7 linked regions of the Homo sapiens genome follow. The protein of the gene in region 6 purifies or fractionates together with the protein of the main gene of each other region. This does not show direct contact. Each region holds a gene or a part of one and is shown on either strand. Other genes may lie near its edges. The genes, in order: TSC22D1, C6orf58, HPX, ITIH1, COX15, SFXN4 and CP.

Evidence for each region.
Region 1: the proteins of SFXN4 (region 6) and TSC22D1 purify together in Homo sapiens (co-immunoprecipitation; one large-scale study listed by IntAct). This does not show direct contact.
Region 2: the proteins of SFXN4 (region 6) and C6orf58 purify together in Homo sapiens (affinity purification with mass spectrometry; one large-scale study listed by BioGRID and IntAct). This does not show direct contact.
Region 3: the proteins of SFXN4 (region 6) and HPX purify together in Homo sapiens (affinity purification with mass spectrometry; one large-scale study listed by BioGRID and IntAct). This does not show direct contact.
Region 4: the proteins of SFXN4 (region 6) and ITIH1 purify together in Homo sapiens (affinity purification with mass spectrometry; one large-scale study listed by BioGRID and IntAct). This does not show direct contact.
Region 5: the proteins of SFXN4 (region 6) and COX15 fractionate together in Homo sapiens (co-fractionation; one large-scale study listed by IntAct). This does not show direct contact.
Region 7: the proteins of SFXN4 (region 6) and CP purify together in Homo sapiens (affinity purification with mass spectrometry; one large-scale study listed by BioGRID and IntAct). This does not show direct contact.

What each region holds. Positions count from the first base shown.
Region 1 is NC_000013.11:44,436,831-44,440,330, reverse strand, and holds part of TSC22D1 (TSC22 domain family protein 1), read left to right. Parts: intron 1-3,038; exon of another isoform or gene 3,039-3,155; intron 3,156-3,472; exon of another isoform or gene 3,473-3,500. UniProt on the Homo sapiens protein: Transcriptional repressor. Acts on the C-type natriuretic peptide (CNP) promoter. Acts to promote CASP3-mediated apoptosis.
Region 2 is NC_000006.12:127,580,174-127,583,673, forward strand, and holds part of C6orf58 (protein LEG1 homolog precursor), read left to right. Parts: intron 1-91; coding exon 92-276; intron 277-1,008; coding exon 1,009-1,109; intron 1,110-3,500. UniProt on the Homo sapiens protein: May be involved in early liver development.
Region 3 is NC_000011.10:6,430,988-6,434,487, forward strand, and holds the end of HPX (hemopexin precursor), read right to left. Parts: intron 1,031-3,500; coding exon 900-1,030; intron 817-899; coding exon 654-816; intron 484-653; coding exon 224-483; 3' UTR 62-223; downstream 1-61. UniProt on the Homo sapiens protein: Binds heme and transports it to the liver for breakdown and iron recovery, after which the free hemopexin returns to the circulation.
Region 4 is NC_000003.12:52,776,144-52,780,398, forward strand, and holds the start of ITIH1 (inter-alpha-trypsin inhibitor heavy chain H1 isoform a preproprotein), read left to right. Parts: upstream 1-1,455; 5' UTR 1,456-1,472; coding exon 1,473-1,589; intron 1,590-1,853; coding exon 1,854-1,874; intron 1,875-2,196; coding exon 2,197-2,363; exon of another isoform or gene 2,364-2,523; intron 2,524-2,798; coding exon 2,799-2,903; intron 2,904-3,288; coding exon 3,289-3,451; intron 3,452-3,777; exon of another isoform or gene 3,778-3,950; intron 3,951-4,125; coding exon 4,126-4,239; intron 4,240-4,255. UniProt on the Homo sapiens protein: May act as a carrier of hyaluronan in serum or as a binding protein between hyaluronan and other matrix protein, including those on cell surfaces in tissues to regulate the localization, synthesis and degradation of hyaluronan which are essential to cells undergoing biological processes.
Region 5 is NC_000010.11:99,718,628-99,722,127, reverse strand, and holds part of COX15 (heme A synthase COX15), read left to right. Parts: intron 1-1,059; coding exon 1,060-1,141; intron 1,142-3,500. UniProt on the Homo sapiens protein: Catalyzes the second reaction in the biosynthesis of heme A, a prosthetic group of mitochondrial cytochrome c oxidase (CcO). Heme A is synthesized from heme B by two sequential enzymatic reactions catalyzed by heme O synthase (HOS) and heme A synthase (HAS).
Region 6 is NC_000010.11:119,162,915-119,166,981, forward strand, and holds the start of SFXN4 (sideroflexin-4), read right to left. Parts: upstream 2,801-4,067; 5' UTR 2,734-2,800; coding exon 2,623-2,733; intron 2,344-2,622; exon of another isoform or gene 2,155-2,343; intron 1,283-2,154; coding exon 1,217-1,282; intron 1-1,216. UniProt on the Homo sapiens protein: Mitochondrial amino-acid transporter. Does not act as a serine transporter: not able to mediate transport of serine into mitochondria.
Region 7 is NC_000003.12:149,211,830-149,215,329, reverse strand, and holds part of CP (ceruloplasmin precursor), read left to right. Parts: intron 1-2,631; coding exon 2,632-2,879; intron 2,880-3,500. UniProt on the Homo sapiens protein: Multifunctional blue, copper-binding (6-7 atoms per molecule) glycoprotein. It has ferroxidase activity oxidizing Fe(2+) to Fe(3+) without releasing radical oxygen species. It is involved in iron transport across the cell membrane.

The sequences.
Region 1 (3,500 bases), on a different chromosome or scaffold from region 6:
CTGGGATTACAGGCATGAGCCATCGCGCTCGCGCCCGGCCACTGTTCTACTCTTTTGGAAGCTTTTTCCAACCAGCCTTTCTGTGGAGATAAGGAAATGTAAATTGTGGTTGAATTTAACAGCCATTTCTTTGGCATTTCTTCTTGTTTTGACAGTGTGTGGGACCCAACACTAAAACACTATTTGTTGTTTTTCTGCCATTCACATTTAACTGATAGTCCTGTAGTTTCATTTGTTAAACCTGGTAAGTATATTCCCATGCCTAGTGAGAGTAAACTAGAAAAATGGAGGTGACGTGGGAGTCCTTAGACAGCAGTGATTTGGTCAGGTACAGGGTAATGTGCCTTCGCTTCTTTCCTGGCAGTTGTTTTAGATTTGCAAGGAGTTTGGATAGGGGGAGAAAGAGGTTACTCTATTTCAGTGCTGAATCTCCAACTGTACCGGTGTTGGCCAAGTCAGATTAAGTTTGGAAGAAAAGCACATGTTACAGGAAACAGAAACACTCAGGCCTGTTCCTCTTTTCCTATCCTGTCATGCTTGCTACCAATATGCAGTAGCAGTTGAATTGGAATCTGTGTAAAAAGGCTTTTAGGCAGACAACACTAGAAAATACCTCAATCTCAATTGTCCAGGCTGTTTAATGTGTATGAGTTCCCACTGAGGTGATACCTCCTGATCTTTGCTCAGTGCCTGAAATAGACTTATATGGTCCATGGCTTTAAGGATCTCTCCTGGAAGCCTTGTAGTATTTTTCTCTGCCCTGTCAGCAAGTCTCAGTGAGCTCTGATGAGGCACCAGACATATGGATCGTTTGTCTTGCAATTAGAAGAGCCTTTGAATGTAATTCTAGCCATTTGTGCCACGGACATTTCTGATCCAAGGGTTTTCCCTCCATGGAGCTTTCCATTTCCTTTGCCTTCTTTTTCAAATTATGTCTTCTCAGTTTTCATACAAAAGTCTAGTTTTAAAGGAATCTAGCATATTTATGTGAAATATATGAGAAAATTAGATTTCTAATCATTTTTTTAGTTGCCTATCCTTTGGCTCAACAAATTCTCCAGAAGTGTGCACACACACATACATGTTCAAGGATGTATGTAGAAGGATGTTCCTTGCAATTTTATTTAAAATATCCAAGTATTAACAATAACTGTAATGTCCTTCAATAGGAAAATGGGTTAAATAGACTATGGTTGCTTATATTTGCTTCTCTTGCTTGATACAATGGATGATCAGTTAAAATGATTGAAATAAAAACAGCTTTCTGTTTATGTTGAAGAACGGCATGAATAAATTCAGTTAATTTAGTAATTTTTTAAAACTGCAGCTTGGAATTTAAAAATTTTTTTATATGACCTTAGAGTTTTGTTTTTTAAAGCTCTTTTTATAGCTTAAATGGTGCTTTAATACCCTTTTTTCATGAAGTTGGCATTCAGTTAAAACATGTAAATGGAATTTAGCATACAAATAGTTTTAGGTATAACTTTAACTTTCAAAATATAGAGACTATCATGTAGTAAATAATATTCTGGTTAGCATTCATAGACATAGGGACCACATGCCAGCTTCCCAAATAATTACGATTTCTAAGCTTCTACTTAGTCTCCTTTTGTTGGAAATGGGTATCTTTTTTTTTAAAGCATCATATGAGTTAATATATGTAATTTTTATAAATTATAAATATGTTAACAATTATTGTTATTCAAAAGCCAAGCCTTAAAATTTGGAGAATATGAACCTTTCAGTAAAAAGGGAATCTCATCACTTTATAGTTGGTCACACTTTGGTTTTTAACCCAAAAGAGAATTGTGGTCTTCATCATTTACTGTGCTTACCGATCTGGTCTGGTTCCTAATAACTTTGGACAGTTTCTGAAAACCAAATCTACCTACCCCCACTACCAGCATTGAGTCAACTTAAAAACTGTCTAAATGGATCTGATGGCAATTTTAGAAAAGGATGCTGCTTGAGGAAAGATGCTTATTTTGGAGAGAAGACTGTGTGTGTTTGTGCATGTGCGTGTATTACATATATATGTTCTACGGTCAGATTTTATGTTGGAATTATTTGTGATGACACAATTTTATCTACAGATTAGAGAGGTCTCCCCAAGTACTTTGTAGATTTTTTGGTTTTTATATTATGCCATTAGAGGGCAGTATTGTAGAGGTTAAGTTTTCTTTCTCGCATGTATTGACTTGGAAACTGTTTATGTTGTATTATAATTTAGCAAACTTCAGGGCTTAGATTTCTAGTATATTAAATTGTAGCCTTAATTGATGCATCCCTGCAAGTATTTTAAATTAATATAGGAAATTTTGAAAGGGTTAAGCTATTTTATACCCACATCTCTCGATTTTGGTTTGGAGAAGGGAATTATTTGGTCAGTGTGGCCAAGAGGGTGAAACAGAGGTGAGCCTACAGCATCTATTGGCTGCTTAACTATTTTTAACCACCATTATATCCTCCCTTTTCTGGTTCTGGACACTGCAAATGGGCAGAGACTAACTTCAAGGATTTGTATGCTTTGAATACATACTTTATAATATTTCAATCCCTCTGATGTAAGAAGGCTCATAGGATTGAGGGATTGAGTCTTAGAGGAATTGTCACTCAGCTTGCAAAAACGTGCCTTAGGGACTTAACTAAAAATAGATTTATGTGGAATTCAACCTGTGGATTGACTTTTTTGGGTCTAAATAGAAGAAGGCATATTTAGTTACTAGGGAGAAGATGCTAATAGGGAGATGTGATTTTAAGGTTTGTGGCTCTACGGGCTTTTTGGGAAGATCCTGGATTTTATCTGGAGTCTTTCCCTCATGCCTAGCAAAGAATATATAATGTTTTTTGTTTTGTTTCTATAAAACAAAAGGTAGTATCTCTCAAAGAGCAAATGTGATTTTTTTTCCTCTAAAATTAAAAAAATACATGATTGCAGGGTGATTATTATCTTTAAAAATAAAACCGTCTATAAAATCCTCCCAGTACCGCTGCCGGTAAGAACTAGATAATTGAAATCAAGACACTCGAAGTCTTACAGTGGTGGGACTGGGCATGCCCAGTAGCTCAGACGGTTCGGGTTACAAATAGGAAGCTTTCGCCGTTAAGCAGCCGCGGGACACAGCTCCGGGGACCGGGGTCTGACTCCCTTAAACGTAAGCACGTGTGGGGGCCCCCATAGTATTTTTCAGGGACCCTTCACATTTTCTGCCGAAGCAATGGCCCAGTGTTTTGAGGCCGCCGTGGAAACCTCCGAACCCAGCACCCCACTCCCTCTGAGCACGGCCCGCGCCAGGCCAGCCCACCCCACGAGCGGGATCTGGAGAATGGGGGCGGAGGTGGGGGTGGGGGGAGGCGGGGAAGCAGGGAAGCGGGAGGACCTGGAAGGGAGTAGGGGGCGGTCCCAGTGGCGTGCCGGCCAATCGGCGCAGCTCTTTCCTGCATATATTTTGCACTAAGACTGGGAGTCCTGGTCTAGAGCTGAGTGGAGCCCGGCTGCG
Region 2 (3,500 bases), on a different chromosome or scaffold from region 6:
TGAATTTTTTTATGACTTATGCCTTCCTTAAAAATATCCTCTTTGAAATTTGTTAGTGCTTGTAGTAATAGTAAATCTTTTGTTCTTACAGATTTGAATTATTTTCTGTCTTCATTACCCTTTCTTGCTGCGGTTGATTCTGGTGTAATGGGGATATCATCAGACCAAGTCAGGCTTTTGCCCCCACCCAAGAATGAGAGGAAGTTTTGTTATGATGTTTCTAGCTGTCGTTCATCCTTCCCTGAGACAATGAACAAGTGGAACACCTTTTACCAGGTTCCTTCTTTATACTCTTACGAGATAGGAAGAGAGTTTATTTTGTCATATAATTTCGTCTAGGATTTTTTTGTGCATTACATAATATTTTCCTTAGTATGCAGATGTAAATTGCTATGCATGATATATTAATAGTATATTGTAGAGTGTTATGAGTCATTAACACCTACTGCCTCAATACAGCATTAACATAAATCTATCCATTCTTCTTGCCTCAAATACATTATACAAAAATGGTGAGCATACAGGATATTTTGCTGAATGATTAATAAGCTATTCTGATTAATTGAGTCTTCATGTCCACTAGGATATTGGAAGAAATTTGACTAAAATCAATGAAGAAAAGATATATTTACTAGTACTTTAGTAGATTATTGCATTAGTTTAGATCTAATGAAACATTTTAAGAAGATATTTTTGTTACTCACGATTTTATGGTAATTTTAACAGTGTTAACAGGAAAAAATAAAGGCCTGATCGGTATAAAATATAAACTCTGAAAATACTTGAAGTTCAATACTTATAGATGCATATGCTATTATTAAAACTAATGAATATTTTTGTGTTATTTAAAGAGTGTTAGGCATTAAGGCCATATACATACTTTTTCTTAGAAATAAAATTCTTCTTTTATGTACAATATTGCTAAAATATATCTGAACATGACTAAATTTCAGGGAGAAGGATTTTATAGTTGCTCAAATATTAATAAATTTGACCTCTTTACCTTAGTATTTGCAGTCACCTTTTAGTAAGTTTGATGATCTGTTGAAGTACTTATGGGCTGCACACACTTCAACCTTGGCAGATAATATCAAAAGTTTTGAAGACAGGTAAGAATGAATCTTTAAAGTATCTCTATTTAATATGATAAATAATTTTGGGCATTATTTATATATTTTTCTTCTTCTTCTAGAGTGTTTTTCAATCTTTATATTAAATAATAAGCCTAACCATTGGAGATTATAGTGAGGATGTGTAAATATTTTAACATGATCAGGCTTAAAAAAGTGTTTTATGAAGAAGGGGAAAATTTTGAGAAAAAAAAGCCTTGCATGAAAAAACAAAAAAAAAAGCAACAGACAATACATTTTCCTAAATGTAGAAAACAAAATATAATATAAATATGTAGATGACCTTTATTATTTAATCATAGACACTGTTACAAGAAAAACTATAGATAAGATAAATGTAGCAGAATTCACTTAAGCAATGAATGATTCATTAATCAGCATCATCCTGAACCAGTAGAGGTTCAGAGAGCTTCACCCAGTGATGTGGGCAGGCAGTATTTATAGACAGAAAAAGAAAGTGACATATGGAAACACCTTGATTGGTTACAGCTCAGATTTGCCTCATTTGGACATAGTGTGGTGAGAAATTTGCCTTGTATAGGCATGGTTTGATCAGTTGGCAGCCTGTGATTGGCTGAAGCTCAGCTGCCATGATTGGCTGAGACCCATATTTGTTACAAGAAAATACTCTTAAGTTTGGTTGCAGTTTGTTTACAAACTACATTAAGTTGCAGTTTGCTACATATCGTGGCAATTTTAGGCCAAACTTAATTTAACAATTCCCCACCTTTTGGTCTGCCTCTCAATTTTGAGAGGTTGACCAAAACCTTGGGCATTGACATCACTCTCTGTCACTTTCATCATTGACTTATTTGGTATCAGTATGGAATTCACAGTTCACAAATCAGGACAGTTGACTGATTATTTATGTTCTCTTTATGTTTTCATTATTCTAATTTTAATGAGACCATTTGACATAGAATGAATAGCTGCATAAGAGGATTTAAGACTCTGGGGAGGTTAAGGTGCACCAGGGAAACTATTATGATGGCTGTCAGGAGGCTGATACTAAGAGACAGAAGGAACCTCAATGAATTGAACCAACATAAATCAAATATATAAATAATAAGCCAGAAGAAAAATCTACTTGTTTTAACCAATTGGCTTGTTTGTTGATTTCTTACAACTGAGCTTCTACCCTACCTGATGAATTTACTTAAGTACAGGAGGGAGTGTTAGCTAGCGCACATATTCCTCCCTAAAGGTAGTCCAAAGCAATCCGGTTACCTAATATGCCTTTAGCAAGAAAATCTAAAGAAGTTTGCTGGCCAATTGTAGCCTTTGCAGTAGAGTCAGCTGTAGTAACTAATGTATGAGACGTATTTCTAAGCATAACCTCCTTTACATTTATACAAAGCCAGGGAAGGAATTTTTTACCCAACAATACCCATTAAGAAGAATTCATACCTGCTGGTAAATTCCTCTTTATTCCATAGTTCAAATTAAGAGTTGCAGACCAATATCCAGTTTCCAATTAGTTATGGAGTGACAGGAGTACTCTTGGAATCCCTTAATTGTCGGTGGCTCCTTATTTTGTAATTATTGAGACATGGATTTGCCCACATATATGGTTGGTTGTTAAATCCTCCACAAATAAAAATATATTCTGGAAGAACCCTACAGATAGTCTCCTGTGTGAGATGCCTTGTGCGTTATGAGTCAGCATTATGAGTCAGCATTAGTAATATTTGTCTAAGGCCTCATTTTTTAATCATTGTATGGTTAGAAGATACTAGCAACTAAAGGATTAGGGTTATAAATTTGCCTACAAACGTCGAATTATCTTCCTTTTGTTTTTCAAATTCAATTCTGGCTTAATTTAATTACCATACTCTCATTATAGGTTTTGCCTACTGTTAGATTTAAACAGGCAATCTGAATATTTGAATCTAAAAGTCTAGCTGTTTAGAAAGAACTAGATATTGCACATGGAATATCAGTGAAATTTCTTACAGGGTGAACCAGAGTATCTCTAAGATCATGTGAGGATTTAGGTTTAACATGACATATGCAATACTCAGTTAAGTTCCATGCAGAAGTAATTGAGTATGAAATCTTCATTATCACATTATATTGCCATGTGTAGACAGAAAAGAAACATGGGCCAAAAAGGAAAAGGAGAAAAGACTTCATGTTGACAGAGGAGAAAAGACTTTATTCATGATCTTGGGAAAGCTGTCTACATCAAGGATGCCATCTTCTTCTGGGGAAAAAAAACGTTCCTAGTAAGCTTTACCTGGAGATCTCCGATGGGTGTACAGTCCCAGGGGTCTGGAGGGGCTCTCTTGAGTTGAGAAATGTGGATCCAAGACTCAAATCCCTGAAGTTGTGCTGCAAAAAAGAGCTTGGTGTGGTACCTTCTGATGGAGT
Region 3 (3,500 bases), on a different chromosome or scaffold from region 6:
GGAGAAGTGCTAACTTTTCAACTCAAAGAAAGAAGATTGTTTCACGACCAAGGTCCCTTGATTCAAGTGAAGAAGCAATCTGTCTTTATTATGAGAAACTGGGGAGGTGGGGCCAGGCCAGACTCATGTCAGAAGGCCCCTCAGTGAGAAGCGAAGAAGCAATCTGTCTTTATTATGAGGAACTAGGAGGTGGGGCCAGGCCAGACTCATGTCAGAAGGCCCCTCAGTGAGTGCAGCCCAGGAGACTGGTCACATTCTGGGGTTGCGGAAGGGCCTTGGCTGCATTCAGTTTCTCCACATCACTGTAGCAGTACAAATTGGGACCATGGATGAGGTACAAGCCGGGACCATTGGCGGAACATGAGTTAGGGCCAAGGGACTTTTCCATACACAAGGCTCCGTCTACCTTCTCATGGGGCCAAGGAAGCTCTGTCCACGTGGCTTGGGCTCCTGACTTCAGGTCCAGCCACCACAGCCGCCGTCCTGGGGAGAAGGCACCAAACATAGCATGGCTTCCATGTCATGGGGATCCTGACCTAGGCCTTCTCATGCCCTGGGGATCCTGACCTAGGCCTTCTCATGCCCTGGTGGGGATCTATGCCACAGACAGGTAGCAGAACAAGCTGCCCTCTAAGCACCCAGAAGCCCCTCACCTGCCATGATATGGAGCCGAGAAGACCCAGGGCAGATAAAGGCCGCATCCACAGAGTCCAGGATAATCCCATGAGGGGTCCCGACTTCCTTCTCCAGCCGCTTCGGATAACCGCTTACTAGGGTATAGCCTCCCTTTGTCAGGAAGACATATACCTGGGTGCCCTGGAGGACAAAGGATGGTAATAAATACAGAGTTGGATATGCTTGTCCCAGTCTCTACCTCAAGCCTCTCCCCCAATACACACCTGGACCAGATAGAGTTTTTCTTCCCAGGAAAAGGCAGCATCCACTGCTGAAGGACCCTGGGGCCACTGATGAGCAATGGGCCAGCTATGCCAGCCATCCCGGCTGGTGTCCAGACGCCAGTAGTGGGTCCCTGTGGAATACCATAGGTTGCTCTAGGGCCGCTGGCAGAAGCCCAGGCAGAGAAGAGGCTAGTGATGAATGCAGAAATGAGTCATGAGAGGGAGAGAATGCATCCAGAGGCCAAGATGGAAGAGGCCAGGTGAGAAGGAGAAATAGAGCAAGACTTGGTCAGCAATGTTGGGCACTGTGCCCTGGCTGAAACTGGAATCAGCAGGTGCCTGAAAGAAAGGCAAGTGTGGAAAACAGTGGCTAAGTTTCCAGGTAAGGCCAACATCATGGGGTTGGCGGGCACTCCCTAAGGATTTCAGGTGTCCATGTACAGAGATGCGGTTATAGATAATGAAATACAGTGTCCAGAACTTAAAAAGGAAGCACCACTTCTACTGAATGTTCTCACTCTGGCTGTGTTCTCCAGTCTCTCCCTATGAGGTGGTGGAAGAGTGAGGGAGTAGCTGGGCTAGCACCCCGTTTTTCTTCTCCTCTTTTCACAACAACTTATTAAGGAATTATCTAGGCTCCCATTTGTCTTTTTTCCTCAATCCTCTTCAATTACACTTCTGTTTCCCTCAACCATTGAAATTGTTCTTATCCAGGTTGCTAGTATTCTCCAATTTGCGAAATCTCATGGTCAATTCTCTGTTCTCATCTGACCCTACCTCTCAGGAGCACTGGACTGCTCACTACTTCCTTCTCCTTTAAATGTCTTTTTTTGGAACTTGGCTTCTGTGACACCTGACTCTCCCAGTATTCCTCTTATCTTTTTTGACTACTCTTTTCTTCAACCTGATATCTAAATATTGGAATCCCCTACTTTGGGCCTCTTCTCTTCTCTCTCTACCTTCACTTCCTTGGTAATCTCACCTAGTCCAGGGGCTTTAAATGCCATCTATATGCTGATGACTTCCAATCTGTTCTCGTCAGCTCTGACTGACCTCTCCTTTGAGGTTTAGGCTCCAAATCAGCTGCCTACCTGACATGCTTATGGGGTGCCAATAGGCACCCAAAACCTAATATGCCCAAACTGATTTCTGCCCCCCACCAACACACACACTCCCTAGTCTTTCCCAATTTTAGAAAACAAAACCACCAGCCACTCAGTTGCTGAGTCCACGAAAGCTGAGTCATTCTTGAAGCCTCTTTTCCCTTCCCTACTCTGACTGATATCATTCATTCATTCATTTATTTAGAGACGGAGTTTCACTCTTGTTCCCCAGGCTGGAGTGCAATGGTGCAATCTCGGCTCACTGCAACATTCACCTCCCAGGTTCAAGCGATTCTCCTGCCTCAGCCTCCCAAGTAGGCTGAGATTACAGGCATGTGCCACCATTCCCAGCTAATTTTGTATTTTTAGTAGAGACGAGGTTTCACCATGTTGGTCAAGCTGGTCTCGAACTCCTGACCTCAGGTGATCCACTCGCCTTGGCCTCCCAAAGTGCTAGGATTACAGGCGTAAGCCACCACACCCGGCCTATCTTAGCTATTAGTTAATGCTGTCAGCTCTACCTCCAAAATATATCATGGTGATTCCTCACCACCTCTGCTGCTATCATCCTAGTCCAAGCGGTCATCACCTCTAATTTGGACAACTGCACGGATTGCTAGCTGGATTCCTTGCTTACATGCTTGTACTTTTATAACTTATGTTCTGCAAAAAGTCAGAGTGATCTTTTATAAAAAATGAGTTAGAATATATCACAGCCCTGCTCAAGACTTTCTGATGACTCCCTTTTATGGTTGAAAACCCTTACCAGGTCTAGGTAACCTGGCCACTGCCGTCCCTGCCCTTTCAAGTCACCCACCTGCTCTTTCTCTGTGTTCCAGCCTCACCAGGCTTCCTTCTTGATTCCTTGAAGTATGTGCTGCTCACCCTCCCTAAAATGCTTTTCCTCCAGCACATCGTGTGGTTAATTCCTTCTCATCACTGAAGTCTCAGCTCAAAAATCATTTCTTCAGAAGACAGCCCTCATTCTCCTCACCTCTATCCCACTATCCTGTCTTATTTTCTTTACAACCCTTAATATTACCTAAAATTATTCTCTTTCTTCCTTTCTCTTTCTTATTGTCCTCTCTCACTTTAGCAGAGCCTGTCAGGGCAGGCATCTTGTCTGCCATGTTGACTACTGTATCTCAGTGCCTAGGACAATGCCCACTTCTTATCAGATGCTCAACAAATATTTGTTGAGTAAATACCTAGTGTTCTTGCTGCTACCACAAGTTCTCTTATTAGCCGTGTACTGAGTATACAGCGGTGACTGACATATCCACCTCCCCTGGGAGGTTTCCCACTGAAATTACCCTGCTCAGGAACCATATTTATTTTATTTTATTTATTTGTTTTTTGAGACAGGGTCTCAATCTGTCACCCAGGCTGGATTGCAGAGGCACAGTCACGGTTCACTGCAATCTCTGCCTCCCACACTCGAGCAATCCTCCCACCTCAGCCTCCTGAACAGCTGGGACTACTGGTGCATGCCACCACA
Region 4 (4,255 bases), on a different chromosome or scaffold from region 6:
CTCACCCCGACCGTCCAGACTGTCTCTGACAGAGCTAATACCAGGTTAGCACTGTGAGAATCACCAGCATGGCTGGATGTCACACACTTTCTAAGCCACCGTGTCTGCCTCCCTGGCCAAAGCATGACTGAAAAGTGTGTTGATGCTGAAAGAATTTTGAAACAGTCTGGGCAACAAAGTGAGACCCTGTTTCCCTCCCTTTCTTTTCTTTTTTCTTTTCTTTTCTTTTCTTTTTTCTTTTCTGTTCTTTCTTTCTCTGTCTCTCTTTCTTTTCTTTTCTTTCTTTCTTTTTGGAGACAGTCTCGCTCCGTCACCCAGGCTGGAGTGCAGTGGCACAATCTTGCCTCTCTGCAACCACCACTTTCCAGGCTCAAGCTATTCTCCTGCCTCAGCCTCCTGAGTAGCTGGAACCACAGACGCATGCCACCATACCTGGCTAATTTTTGTATTTTTGGTAGAGATGGGGTTTCACCATGTTGCCCAGGCTGGGCTGGAACTTCTGGCCTCAAGTGATCTGCCTCCCTCAGCCTCCCAAAGTGCTGAGATTACAGGCATGAGCCACCTCGCCCGACTGAAACCCTGTTTCAACAAAAAATAAAAATAATCAGCTGGGTGTGGTGCCACATTCCTGTGGTTCCAGGTACTCAGAAGGCTGAGGTGGGAAGATCAGTTGAGTCTGGGAGGTCGAGGCTGCAGTGAGCCAAGATCGCACCACTGTATTCCACCTGTGCGATAGAGGGAGACCCTGTCTTAAAAAAAAAAAAAAAAAAGAAATTTGAAAGTAAAGCCTGGCCGGGCCCAGTGGCTCACTCCTGTAATCCCAGCACTTTGGGAGGCTGAGGCGGGCAGATCACCTGAGGTCAGGAGTTCGAGACCAGCGTGGCCAATGTGGTGAAGCCGTCTTTACTAAAAATACAAAAATTAGCTGGGCATGGTGGTGTGCACCTGTAATCCCAGCTACTCGGGAGGCTGAGGCAGGAGAATCACTTGAACCCAGGAGGTGGAGGTTGCACTGAGCCAAGATCCTGCCACTGCACTCTAGCACTCAAGACCAAAACTCCATCTCAAAAAAAAAAAAGTAAAGCCTAATGAAGTTTAGAAATCCATTTTTAACTGTTGCTTCTTGCCACATGTCACCGTGTCACTGGTGCTGCCTTGTGCCAGCCCGAGGATGAGATGAGCCATCCGGGGATCCTCACAGTTCACATAGGCTAAGCGCAGTTCTACACAGAGGGACATGGTCTGGAGCCCCATCAGTAGTTTAACCACCCAGAGCTGGGAACCCCCCTGAGGCAAAAAGCTTCCACTGCCAAATTTTGATTCCTCTAAATGTGTTAGGTTGATGCAAAAGTCATTGCGGTTTTTGTCATTAATATTTGCCTGCACCTTGTCTAATGTTTAATCCATGTTTATCCAGCACTGTATTGATTACTGGTCTGACTGAGGTGACAGGGCAGCAGGAGCCTTAGAGCATGGACGGTGCCATGGGGCCTCGGGGGCTGCTGTTGTGCATGTACCTGGTATCTCTCCTCATCCTGCAGGCCATGCCTGCCCTGGGCTCGGCTACAGGCAGGTCCAAGAGCAGCGAGGTATATGGCTAAGCCCACAGGGCAGAAATAGGCAGCTGAACCTGGATGAGGCCCCGGGCGGGACACAAGACCCCCATTCAAGGGGCCAGGGTCACCCCCACCACCTCCACCACTTCTGAGTGGAGAGGTGACCTCCCAGCACCACCAAGGAGGTGAAGCTAAGGGGCAGAGGACACAGGCTGTGTTCCACTCCCATCCCTGAACTGGCAGGCCGGTGGTCCCCTGAGTTTTCCTCTCACACTTGACCCTGATTTTGTTTTGCAGAAGCGACAGGCTGTGGACACCGTGAGTAAGAGTCCTGGCAAAGGGGTCTGTGACAGAGCCCTTTTTACAGGCTTGCTTTCCCCAACCTGTCAGGGGTGGACCCCTCTATCAGGGCCATAGGCATGGGGTACTCTCCAGGGTCCTAGAAATGGGGACTTGTTCCCATCTCACCTCATATCCCACAGCACGGTCTCAGCCAGAGAGCAGGGGTCTTCCTGCGGTCTGTTCTTCCTGCATCTGGGCACCATGCACTGGGGCTAAGTGCCAAGTCCCCGTACCACAGGAAGTCCCTCGCTGACAGAGGCCCTGTCTCAGGCCACAGCTCCTTCATGTCTCACTTTAGGCTGTCGATGGCGTGTTCATCCGGAGTTTGAAAGTCAACTGCAAAGTCACCTCTCGCTTCGCCCACTATGTTGTCACCAGCCAAGTGGTCAACACTGCCAATGAAGCCAGGGAAGTGGCCTTCGACCTGGAAATCCCCAAGACAGCATTCATCAGTGACTTTGCCGTGTGCGTGCCTGCCCAACTCCCATGCCTTCTCCCAGGGGTGCCGCTTACTAGTCCCAGCTTAAGAACAAGGATCGGAGTGGCCAGATAACGCAGAGCATCTCCTCATTCTAGAAGGGCCACAGACCAGCCCTGGCTTTGAGGGGAGGAAGAAGCCCTTTAGGTCTGTGCTTGGCTCCCATCTTGGAGGCAAACTGGGACCCATCACAGCATGTTTCAGGCTAGAACCCAAGGAGCCAAGGCCAGAGTCTGAGGCTTCTTGCTGGCCTCTGACCTGGGCTGCTCACCTCATTGCCCATGGACCCCTGAGTTCCACCATGGGCAGTGGAAGGCTCGTCAGGAGACGTCCTTATCCAAGGGCTCACATGGACAGGCCCTCTCAGGACCTGTGTGGTCAGGAGGCTCATCTTTCCTGAGGGTGTCCTTCCCTCCCTGCAGTACAGCAGATGGAAACGCATTTATCGGAGACATAAAGGACAAGGTGACTGCATGGAAGCAGTACCGGAAAGCAGCTATCTCAGGAGAGAATGCCGGCCTTGTCAGGTGAGTTCTGGGCCTGCTGGTCTCATCTCTAGGGCTGCCCTCCCCAGCCAGGACAGGTCTGATGGCTGCAAGGTGGCTTTAGTGGAGAACAGCCCAGGATGATGGAAGGGTAAGCAAACTGCCCAAACCCAGATGCCAGCACGGTGCACTGAACAGGCTGCCGTGCAGTTGCCCTTTTCCCAGATATGCCACTGGGAGAAGTGGGCCCCCGCCATCTTGGGCCCTGACCCTGACCAGCCAGCTAACACATTTGTGAGGTCCAGGGAAACCTGGGAGCAACACTCATCTAAGAGAAATAAATTCTGTGGGCCACATGTTAGGTGACAAGGACCCAAATGTCATTTACCCTCTGTCTGTCTGCTGTTGCCTCTGGTGGCACATCCAGGGCCTCGGGGAGAACTATGGAGCAATTCACCATCCACCTCACCGTCAATCCCCAGAGCAAGGTCACGTTTCAGCTGACTTATGAGGAAGTGCTGAAGAGAAACCATATGCAGTATGAAATTGTCATCAAAGTCAAGCCCAAGCAGCTGGTGCATCATTTTGAGGTAGATCACAGGTCCCGGGGCAGGGGTCCTGCCCCTCTCTCCGTCACCATGGCTCCCAACACTGGTTGAGCACCCACCATGTGTCACCACCCAGGCCTGAGAACACAGGGATGGGGACTAACCCCTCAGGGTGAGCTCTGATGTGCTCTTCTTGGGCAGGGAACTCCCTGAATTCTCTAACTTCCTCTTTATCTCTGAGCTTCGGTTTGCTCATCTGCTAGACGGGGGGTTTCTGTGAGTCCCAGGACCGCCACAGGGATCACGAGAAGTACTGAATGTCCAGGTAATTTTGTAAACTAGAAAGTCCCGCGCAGCCTGAGGGCCTGGAATTATTGCTGGCACCTAAGTGGTGGCTGAGTTGAGGGATGCAGGCATGTACACCTTCATTTGGTCAGTATTTTTGGAGTGCCTACTGAGTACCAGGCCCTGTGATCAGGGCTGGGTGGGTGCTGCACACAGTAGGTGGCCAGGACACATGCTGGCTCTTGGCTGAGACTTGGTGAGTGGGAGCCCTGGTAGAGAATTTGCTTCAGTGTGGTGTGAGCCTATAATCCCAGCTACGTGGGAGGCTGAGGCAGGAGGACGGCTTGAGCCCAGGAGTTTGAGGCCAGCCTGGGCAACAAAGCAAGATCCCATCTTTTTTTTTAAAAAAATAATTTGCTTCAATGTTGCAGATTGATGTGGACATCTTCGAGCCCCAGGGGATCAGCAAGCTGGATGCCCAGGCCTCTTTCCTGCCGAAGGAACTGGCAGCCCAAACTATCAAGAAGTCCTTCTCAGGAAAAAAGGTACATGGGATAGCAA
Region 5 (3,500 bases), about 19 Mb from region 6:
TTGGGAGGCTGAGGCGGGTGGATCATTTGAGGTCAGGAGTTTGAGACCAGCCTGGCCAACATAGTGAAACCCCCATCTCTACTAAAAGTTAAAAAATTAGCTGGGCAATAGTGGCGCGCACCTGTAATCCCAGCTACTTGGGAGGCTGAGGCAGGAGAATCGCTTGAGCCTGGGAGGTGGAGGTTGCAGTGAGCCAAGATTGTGCCACTGCACTCCAGTCTGGGCGACAAAGTGAGAAAAAAAATTTTTTTAATTAAATAAAATTTATTTACATAAGCTTTTTGTTTATTTAAACTTTATATTTAAATAAAATTAATTTTTTATTTAATTTTCAGTCATACTAGCCACATGTTTCAAGCTCTCCTTAGGTAGATGATAGAACTTTTCCATCACAGAAAGTTCTATTGGACAGTGCTGATATACTGTCCTATAATATGTTAGTAATGATACCTAACTTTTCATATAGTAGAGTGTAAGCCATTTGAGGGTGGCATAGTCACCTGTTTATAAAGTTCTTATTCATATTTGATGATTCACTTATTAGTATTAGAAGTTGGTAATAAGAATAAAAACAAATTTTGATTTTATCAAAAACACTAAATGGAGGAATCTCTAAGCACTTTATGCAATTTTGATTCTGACTATATTTGCTAAACACTAATATCACACACATGAAAATCCAGTCCTGATCTTAAGCTACATCCTTTCAACCGTGATGAAGCATTGTTTCCTGAATAATGGAAATCATTCAGTTTTTGAACAGATGCGTAATGAGTACCTATGTGCCAATCACTAGGCTAAGATTGCTCTAGTAAAAAAGATGGCAGTTCCTGCCTTCACAAAACTTATGGGGTAGAAGGGAAAACAGATAGTAATCTATAATTATAATAAAATACAGTACATGTTGGAACAGAATATCTGCCAGGAGTACTTAACCTAGTCTAGGGGTCAGAGAAGATCTGATCTTAATTTGTCACTTGGGTTTGGCCTTAGAGATCTTTGCTGCCTCTCATTGTTCCTGCAACACAGTTTAACTGAATGATTTTTTTTCATATTTAGTTGCCTGAAACCCACCAACTCCTACAGTTGAGACGATTTGCTCATGGAACAGCAGGTCTGGTGTTCCTTACGGCCCTCTCAGGTAGGACTCAGCTCATCAAAGATGACCTGTTTGCATTGCACTCTAAGCTGGGACCTCTTGCCTAATGCTTTGCCCCTTCCTCCTGCATCTTTATATTTCCTTTTCACATCTGTTTCTCTCATTCCCCCATCTTCACCCTGTTTCCTGTTCCTTTCTCTCTTCCAAAAATTCTACTTTACTGTCAATTGAACAAAAATATTGAACATCTACCTAGATCCAGATGGCCTAGGTTCAAATCCTGGCTTCACTACCTGTGAACTATATGACCTTTGCAAGCTCTGTAACCTCTCTGGGCCTTAGAGACCTTATCTATAAAATGGAGATTACGACAACAGTATGACTGCTAAATGTGAAATGTGTAGCATCGTTGTTGGCATGTAGCAAAGGCTACATAAGTGTTAGCTGTTACTATATATAAACATTGTTATCATCACATTACATCAACATGGGTCAGAGAAAAGGCTTGCCCTCAGAGATGGTTGCAGGTGGAGAGTTCATTGGCACAGAGAGACCAACACAGGATTTTTTCATTCTTTTTTTTGAGACTGAGTCTCACTCTGTTGCCCAGGCTGGAGTGCAGTGGCATGATCTCAGCTCACTGCAACCTCTGCCTCCCTAAATCCAAGCGATTCTCGTGCCTCAGCCTCCCGAGTAGCTAAGACTACAGGTGCACACCACCACGCCCAGCTGATTTTTGTATTTTTAGTAGAGATGGGGTTTCACCATGTTGGCCAGGCTGGCCTCGAACTTCTGACCTCAGGTGATCCACCCGCCTTAGCCTCCCAAAGTGCTGGGATTACAGGCATGAGCTACCATGCCTGGCCGTTTTCATTCTTTAACCCACACTTCCACCACTGCTGCTCTCATTCTAGAACTGCACTATCCAGTAGAGGAGCCTGTAGCCTCATGTGGATATTTAAACTTAAATTAATTAAGGTTAAATAAAATTTAAAATTTAGTTCTTCAGTCACACTAGCAACATTTCAGATGCTCCACAGGCACATGTGGCTAGGGGCTAGTATATTGGTTGGCACAAATATAGAATACTTCCACTCTCACAGAAAGTTCTATTGATAGTACTGCTCTGGACTAAAAATAATATTGATTCAAACCAATGAGCCACTCAACACTTTTATTTTTGGCATAAGAGCATGAATTTTTACTTCATAAGGGACATTTAAAAAAAATATGGAGTGGGTTGGGCATGGTGGCTCACACCTGTAATTCCAGCACTTTGGGATGCTGAGGCAGGTAGATTGCTTGAGCCAGGGAGTTCAAGACCAGCCTGGGCAACATGGTGAAACCTCGTCTCTACAAAAAATACAAAAATTAGCCATGTGTGGTGGTATTCACCTGTAGTCTCAGCTACTCAGGGGGCTGAGGCGGGAGGATTGCTTGAGCCCAGGAGGTCGAGGCTGCAGTGAGCGGAGATTGCGCTGCTGCACTCCAGCCTGGGTGACAGAGCAAGACCCTGACTCAAAAAAAGAAAAAAAGGCCAGGCATGGTGGCTTATGCCTGTAATCCCAGCACTTTGGGAGGCCGAGGCAGGCGGATCACCTGAGGTTGGGAGTTCGAGACCAGCCTGGTCAACGTGGTGAAACCTCGTCTCTACCAAAGGGCGCACCTATAGTCCCAGCTACTCGGGAGGCTGAGGCAGAAGAATTGCATGAACCCTGGAGGCAGAGGTTGCAGTGAGCCGAGATCATGCCACTGCACTCCAGCCTGGGGGACAGAGCCAGACTGCGTCTCAAAAAAAAAAAGAAAGAAAAAAGCGAGTGTGACCCAAACATTTCTGGATTTTCTTTGATAATAAATAATGGATCAGACATCCATTAATTCATGAATACCCTCTTTATTTGTTTATCCAGGATTTAGTTTATAAGTTTTGGGATTTTTCTCACTTCCGTATTCAGTCAACAAACATTTATTGAGCATTTGGGGAAGACAGATAACGCACAATAGAAACATAATGTGCTAGATGATATTTAGTGCCATGAAGAAAAATAAATTAGGGTCAGGAGACAGAAAGTGGGCTAGGATCATCAAGCGAAATCTCTTTGGTAAGGTGACATCTGAGTGGAAGCTGAGGAAATAAGGGAGTCAGTCATGCAGACATCTGTGGGAGAGCATTTCTAAAATAAATCAGTAGCACTCAGTGGCGGGGTGAGGAGGGCATCAAAATCACTAAGGGAATTTTTCTAAGCTAATAAGCCTCTCCCCCTCCCCCCACACCACAGCCTCTACTCCACTTCTCTAGAGGAAGCAGAATCTTGGGGTGGGAGCAGGTAAGGATGCAGAGATTTGAAGTTTCCTTGGTGATTGTGATGTATCTTCTCTGTTGGAGAACTCCTGTTGCAGA
Region 6 (4,067 bases):
CCTCCCAAATAGTTGCGACTACAGGCACAACCCACTACACCTGGCTAACTTTCTATTTTTATTTGTACAGATAGGGTCTCGCTACATTGCCCAGGCTGGTCTCAAATTCTTATTCTCGAGAGATCCTCCCATCTCAGATTCTCAAAGTGCTGGGATTATAGACATGAGCCACCACAGCCAGCCTCCATTTCTTAATTTGAGAAAAAATAAATACAAAAATTACAAAGAATGGCTACACACTATAATCCCCTCACCCAGAATTAACAACTGTAAACATCTGGTTATATTTGCTTCTAATTTTATTACATTTTCTTTCTTCTTTTTTTTTTTTTAAAGATGGAGTTTCACTCTTGTCACCCAGGATGTGACCAGTTTAGCCAGTCTGTCCTCCATCACGTGGAAGATTTGTTTGATTCTCTCTGAATCCCCAGCACCTGGCCTGGGCCTGATATTACCTGTTAAACAGATGTACGCTTTTCTTTTCTTTTTTTGCTGGGGGAAGGGGATGGAGTTTCGCTCGTCACGCAGGCTGGAGTGCAGTGGCAAGATCTCGGCTCACTGCAACCTCCACCTCCTGGGTTCAGAAAGTGATTCGCCCACCTCAAGCCTTCCGAATAGCTGGGATTACAGGTGTCTGCCACCACACCCAGCTAATGTTTGTATTTTTAGTAGAGACGTCGGTTTCACCATGTTGGTCAGGCTGGTCTCGAATTCCTGACCTCAGGTGATCCACCCACCTCGGCCTCCCAAAGTGCTGGGATTAAAGGCATGAGCCACGGCACACGGTCAGATGTACGCTTTTCCTTACCCCTTCCAATCTGACAAGCTCATTTAGAAGGAATAAACACAATAATATATGTAGATTCTGTTATTTCAACTGCTTTTAAAAGGGACACGTGGGCAGGGCCTGAGGTCGGGAGTTCAAGACCAGCCTGACCAACATGGAGAAACCCCCGTCTCTACTAAAAATACAAAATTAGCCGGGCATGGTGGCGCATGCCTGCAATCCCAGCTACTCGGAAGGCTGAGGCAGGAGAATCGCTTGAACCTGGGAGGTAGAGGTTCTTGTGAGCCGAGATGGTGCCACTGCACTCCATCCTGGGCAAGAAGAACGAAACTCCGTCTCAAAAAAAAAAAAAAAAAAAAAAAAGGGACACACAGACTTCAAGTTTCAAAATAAAATGTGAAATTCATTAGCTCTGAAAACAATACTTACAACTGAAATGAACACATTTGTAGGATCTAATAATTCTGTCCATTGAAGAAATCGTCGAATAAAGGACTTAGGAGGGAGAAAAGCAACAGAGAGGTTAATGGCAGCAGAAAAATAAAGATATAAATACTAACAGTTGGCTTTTTTTTTTTTTTTCTGAGAACCTGCCAGGGTCTGTGATCTGCCTTTTACTGGCATCATCTCCTGGGATCCTCCCAACCTCTCCAGGTTCTCCAGGTGAGGAAGCTGAGGCTTAGAGGGACTCCTGAATGTACTCAAGGCAACACAGCCAGGAAATGATTCAGAAGTCTGTGCCCTTAACCTCTCAGTATCAAATTGCCCTTGAGGGTTAAAATCCCAGACTTTGGGGGTTCAAATGGTCTTACGTTCATATCTCACATACGACCTCGAAGCAATGGCCTAGAATATCTCAAGAGTCTGTGGCCTCACTCTCTGCTTGCTATAAGGCTTCACTCCAGTGACAAAGGATGGACGCCCCATTAAGGGCTCAATGGTGCAGCTGGGGTCACACTGGGGAAAAAGAGGTTTGCTCCAGCAAACTCTAAACTTTGTAGTGGTTCTGGCTTTAAGCCTTGGCTCTGCTGGAGCAACCTGAGCTCACCGCCCCTTCTCAATTTCCCCACCTAAAAAAAAAACAGGGCTGGACCCCACTTTAGGAGAGGCCTCAAAGAGAACCCCCTAAAGCCCTGCTCTCCAATTCGCCACATGCGGCTGAACCCAGATGTGCTGTGAAGGTAACAGACGCCGGATTTGGAACACTCTGTACCAAAAAAGCGAGTAAAATATCTCAGCAATGTTTTTTACTGATTACATGTTGAAATGTTAATATTTTGCACCTGCTAGGCTAAATGTACTGTATTGTTAAAAATTTCAGCTGTTTTTATCTTGTTTAATGTGGCTACTAGAAAATGTTTAATTACCTGTAAGGCTCACATCATATTTCTATTGGACGGTGCTGCCCTAGACGCTGCAGGGAGATAAGTCCTGCTTATGTCCTGCCCAAGGGTGGCTTCCCAAAGCCTCGGGGGTCTCACCGAAAGTGGCTGAGCTTACCAAGGTGCGAGAGCCTGTTTCTCCCCAATCTGCTGCTCAGCCACAGCTCAGGCAGTAGGGAGCAGCCACCTGCGCGGACTGGGCCCCTCCGAGAGGGCAATCTGGAGGGTGACGTTGTGGTCGTGGGCATCTGGCAGCTTCGATTTCCCCTGCGTCCCCTGCCGCGCCCTAAGGGGTGAAGGCCGGTGGTGCGCGTTCCCGGCACAACTCCGAGAGGAGGAAACGGAGACAGGGGGCGCCCACGTGGCCTGGCCAAGGTCACCCGGGTCAGCCCGACTCCACGCGGCCCGGCCCGCCCCCTCCCTGCCCCTAGTCGCGCCGGGCCCGGGCCGTACTTGGCGCTCGGTGATCCAGAAGCGCACGTTGGGCTCAATGAAGGCGGGGACGGCGTCTCTGCGTCCTAGGAGCCGCCCAGGTTGCGTTTCCTCCTCCTGTTCCAGGGACATTTTGCGCTGGTTAGAGTGGCCGCCGCCGCCAGGCCGCGCGTGGAGGAGGAGCCGGGCGGCGAGCCCCGCCCCGGGCCGCGCGCACCCGCAGTTCCCGCCCCAGGCCCGCGCGCCCGACGTCCCGTGTCACAGCGCCTCGGGGCCCTTGCGCGCCCACTGTTCCGGCGAGCGCAGCTCTCCCACGGGCCACGTCCTCCCAACCCTGCTTGCCCTGCTCCGCACCTTTGGGGAGCCGGGCCGTCTCCAGGCCCCAAGGGGTCACTATCGGAACCCGTCATCACAGTACCTAATGCGAAGACCCGGAAAGGTTGTGAGTGAGGCCGTCCGCAACCTCACCCTGCGCTTCTGCCGCGCCCTACCCCTGGTCATTACCCTCGAAAATCCCTCCGATGGCCCACGAATTCCAGTGTGCATGGTGTTGCGCAGTCAGGCCGGCTGCATCATGGTCTCAGCCCAGGGAAAATGTCAAATGCGGTGCCCCTTATTCATGTTACTGAGAATTTCAAGAGAGTAACACCAGAGCATCAAACCAAGTATAGGGCCCTGGGCACAGTGCACTATCCCTCAGCCCAACAGGTTGTTTTTTTTTTTCTTCCAGTGTTGGGGCAAATCCAGTTCCTTTTGTTGACTACCAAATAGGTACCATTTGTAAAGAAAAACCTGCCTTCCCTTCCTCCTCCCACCTGCCCTTCCCCAGCACAGGGCCAGGCGGGGGCTGTGTGCACTTAAATTCACGGAAGCCACAAGTGTGCCTAGGTCGTTCAGGGGGCCTCCGGAGTCCAGGACTGGGGGACCCAGCACATCATCTAGTTGTGTGACCCTCGCCAAGTCAGTATCTCGAAGTCTATTTTCCCATCCGCAAAATGAGGATAACAATTGTACCTATCTCAGGGTTTTGTTTCTGATCAAAGGAGATAAAACATCCCTAACACAGCACTGAGCCCTCAGAAGTGCTCAGTATTGGCCATTAACCTCCAGCGGGCCAATTCCTTCCCTTGCCCTGCGCCTCCAGGAACAGGAAATTGGCTCATGGCGTCCTTCAGGCCTGTATGACTCTGCTTCTGTATTTGCTCAGTTTGCCTAGCTCACTTTTCTTAACCTCCAGGGGTTTATCTCCTCTTCCAGGAAGCCTTCCCTGACCCTCCGAGTTGAGTAAGGTGCCCCCTCCACTTCTACCCTTATGCCGCAGAAATCCATCTAAGCACCAGTGCAGTATGTAGCGTGCTGTTCTATTCTGTTGTCTCTACCCTCCAGGATGTCACAAAGCCAGCCCGCTGGCCTGCTTCCCCACTTTGGACTGCTATGTCGTCTTAACAAAGGAGCCAGAGTGATTC
Region 7 (3,500 bases), on a different chromosome or scaffold from region 6:
TTTATGGCAATGCTCTTCCTATTTTAGGAAATGATTAATACAGGAGCATTTCAATGCAATAAAATCATTTTGACAAAGCCTGCTATAGTTTATCAAAATAGGACATGATGTATGCCAAAGTGTATTTACATTCAGAAAATATAAAGAAACATTTTATTTAAATGAAGCCTTAAGAATTTGAGGGCTAACTTTTAACTTTGGCCTATGTAAGATGTGTACCAATAGGACATGGTAAAGCATGGAGTAAAGTCTCCAAATATTATCAAATCAATCTCTCAGAAATAAAAGTGTGTTCAGACTCTTAAGAAAATTTACCCTGGGGCTTAGACAAGTCTCTGTGAGATTGATTGGTCCAGGGTTCCGGTGGGACCAGAGTGGAATTGTACCTTTGTACTGTAGACTTTGCAGCTGCAGTTGTGTACCTAACTGAAATTGCACTCTTATTGACCTCCTCTCAGTCATATGGACTGAATGACTCTCTGCTTTTAAACTTAGTAGTCTTTGATGCAACAATTTTGCTGTTGTTAAGACATATATTTATTAAGACTCTTTCTGTGCATTCCTTGCTATGGGTTTAGGGACAGAGTTCACCCCAGTGTCTTGCCCTTTTCCCATGCCTACCTGTGTCCATGAAGTCTCTCCCAATCTTTTCCTATTTTGCTTTAACAAATTGGGAAATGGCAACAAACAATTAGAAAGTGAAAACAAATAGAAAAAATGAGGGTATACTCACAGTTTTGCTGCTCCACACAGGCTGCAAATAATGACACTTTATTTTTCTAACTTCTAGCTTAGCCCTCCCACCAGGACAGGGGATGGACAGGGAAACATCATCTCAGTCATTTTTTTAGTGAATAATTTTATCTTCTTTGGGAATTCGGGTTTATACAATTCAGGAAAATTGGTATTCCCAGTGTATTGGTATATGGTAGTGACTAGGAGGAAACGCTCATCATAGAAATTCCTTGATCAATCCAGAGAATGGTGACTCTTATTTTCAACACCTGCTCACTCTGCCCAAACTCAGCCACCAGGACCATTGCCAAGTGGCCATGGTACCTGGCCCCAGCACTCAGGCTTAATCTATATAGCCTCCACCGCAGAGGTCCTGCCACTTCCAGGTATGACCTGGAAACCGAGTTTTCTACCTTTCTGTCTCATGGTATCAGGAATCCCACTGCTTCTGGGATTGGGCAGCTCTCTTAATCTTCAACCTTAGAGCCTCTTCAACACAGGTTACCCAGGGCCCCAGAGCAGACTATCTCATCAAAACACACCAGTGTGTTGGTTAATAATGCAGATACCTGGGCCCTGCCCCAGACCCACAGAATCAGAATCAATGGAGTTGTGTCCCAGGAGTTTGCATTTCACTAAGTTCATCAGTAGATTCCTGTGCATATTCAGACTTAAGAAACATCAGGCCTTAGACTTTTGAAAAACCACATCTTTAAATTCTGTAGCAGTGAAAGTCCAGAGCTCTCACACAAGCTCTGCTCTTGTCTTAAAGAAGGGAAAGAAAAATATATCTCACTTTTACCAGTGAGCTTACAACTGAGGAAACAAGACAAAACTTATTCCTCAGTCAGATTACTCGGCCCCACAAATGTTGAGTAGAAATTGGTAAAGTATCAAAGATCAATAAGATGAAAGAAGGCAACACACACACACACACACACACACACACACACACACACACACCCATGATGATGAGCAGTTTTTATTCAAATGGAAGAGCCTTGGTTGTGGAGGGGCTTGCCAAAGGCCAGAATCTAAGTGGGTCCTGCCAAATGGCAACATGATGTTGCCCATGAATAGATCCCACTGGGCTATATAAGCCTTCAGTTAAGGTTGATAACACAAGAAATTAATTCAAACCAAATTTACTTTCTTTCCATCTTTTCTTTTCCAGATTGCTATTTACCTCACTGATATTTTAAAGAAAGTTTTAAGCAACTATTAATGGACATTCACTAGAATACAAACATTCAATGTTAAGTATCTGTACTAGTGAGGGATTAAAAAACACAGGGATTATTTAAATTCAAAAGTAATTTAAAAACCACACACATTGCATGCATCAACAACTCTAGCTTTGATTTAGTGCTGTTAAAAGAAATATAAAAGAATTAATTTAGCTTTATTAATCTTACTTTAAGGAAAAAAATATATAAATATACACACACATACTTTGAAGTCTCAAATATCCAGATTGATTAATTATAAACTCAAATTTTTCCAGTAGCTAAGAGAGGTAGAAGTGAAAAAATGTCTTAATTAACTGCTTTATTTTAATATTTCAACTTAATTTTGTATTCTATTCCATTACATAATATGCCTGTGTCTTAATATAAAAATCATGGAGAAAATACTTCAGTAAGATGCACTACATTTCTATGATGCCTTCGCAGATGGTTCTCTGACATATACCTGATATGGAAAGCCTCACATCATTAAAATAACAGGGCTAACTACCAGCCCTCCACTTCAATTTTGGAGGCATCCCTACAACAGGCAAACATTCAATGTGATGTGCTCATTAATTTCTCTAATTATAATGTTATTAAATTATAATGATAATGTCATCCCTAGAAATGATGGCTTCTGATAGAGTTGTCTTGTTTTTCTTTGCAGGGAACATTCCAATATCTATCTTCAAAATGGCCCAGATAGAATTGGGAGACTATATAAGAAGGCCCTTTATCTTCAGTACACAGATGAAACCTTTAGGACAACTATAGAAAAACCGGTCTGGCTTGGGTTTTTAGGCCCTATTATCAAAGCTGAAACTGGAGATAAAGTTTATGTACACTTAAAAAACCTTGCCTCTAGGCCCTACACCTTTCATTCACATGGAATAACTTACTATAAGGAACATGAGGGTAAGTTCAGCTCATGTAGCTGGAATTTCCTCTTACTTTTCAGTAGAAGTGCCTTTTAGCTTCTAAAATTGTGGACTTCTCTCCTGGATAAGACATATAACTGCCATTCAGCTCTTAACTATTTTTTTTTTATTTTTTTTTAATTTTTTTTGACTTCTGTCACCCAGGCTGGAGTGCAGTGGCACGACCTCGGATCACTGCAAGCACCGCATCCGGGGTTCAAGCCATTCTCCTGCCTCAGCCTCCCGAGTAGCTGGGACTACAGGCGCCCACTACCATGCCTGGCAAACTTTTTTATTTTTATTTTTTTTTTGCATTTTTAGTAGAGACGGGGTTTCACCGTGTTAGCCAGGATGGTCTTGATCTCCTGACCTCCTGATCTGCCCGCCTCAGCCTCCCAAAGTGCTGGGATTACAGGCGTGAGTCACTGCACCCGGCCAACTATTTTATTAATAGGTACTTTGTTTCCATATAATAATGGCATGTTTCTCTTGGTTGTGCTCTTTCGTGGAAAGTGTGAATGTGAGAGAATTTCTAGGTGGACTCAGTGAGAGTCAGAGAGAGCTGGAGCTTCTTTCCCAGAGCCCAGTCCTTTCTGGCCAAATAGAATAAGAGAAATGG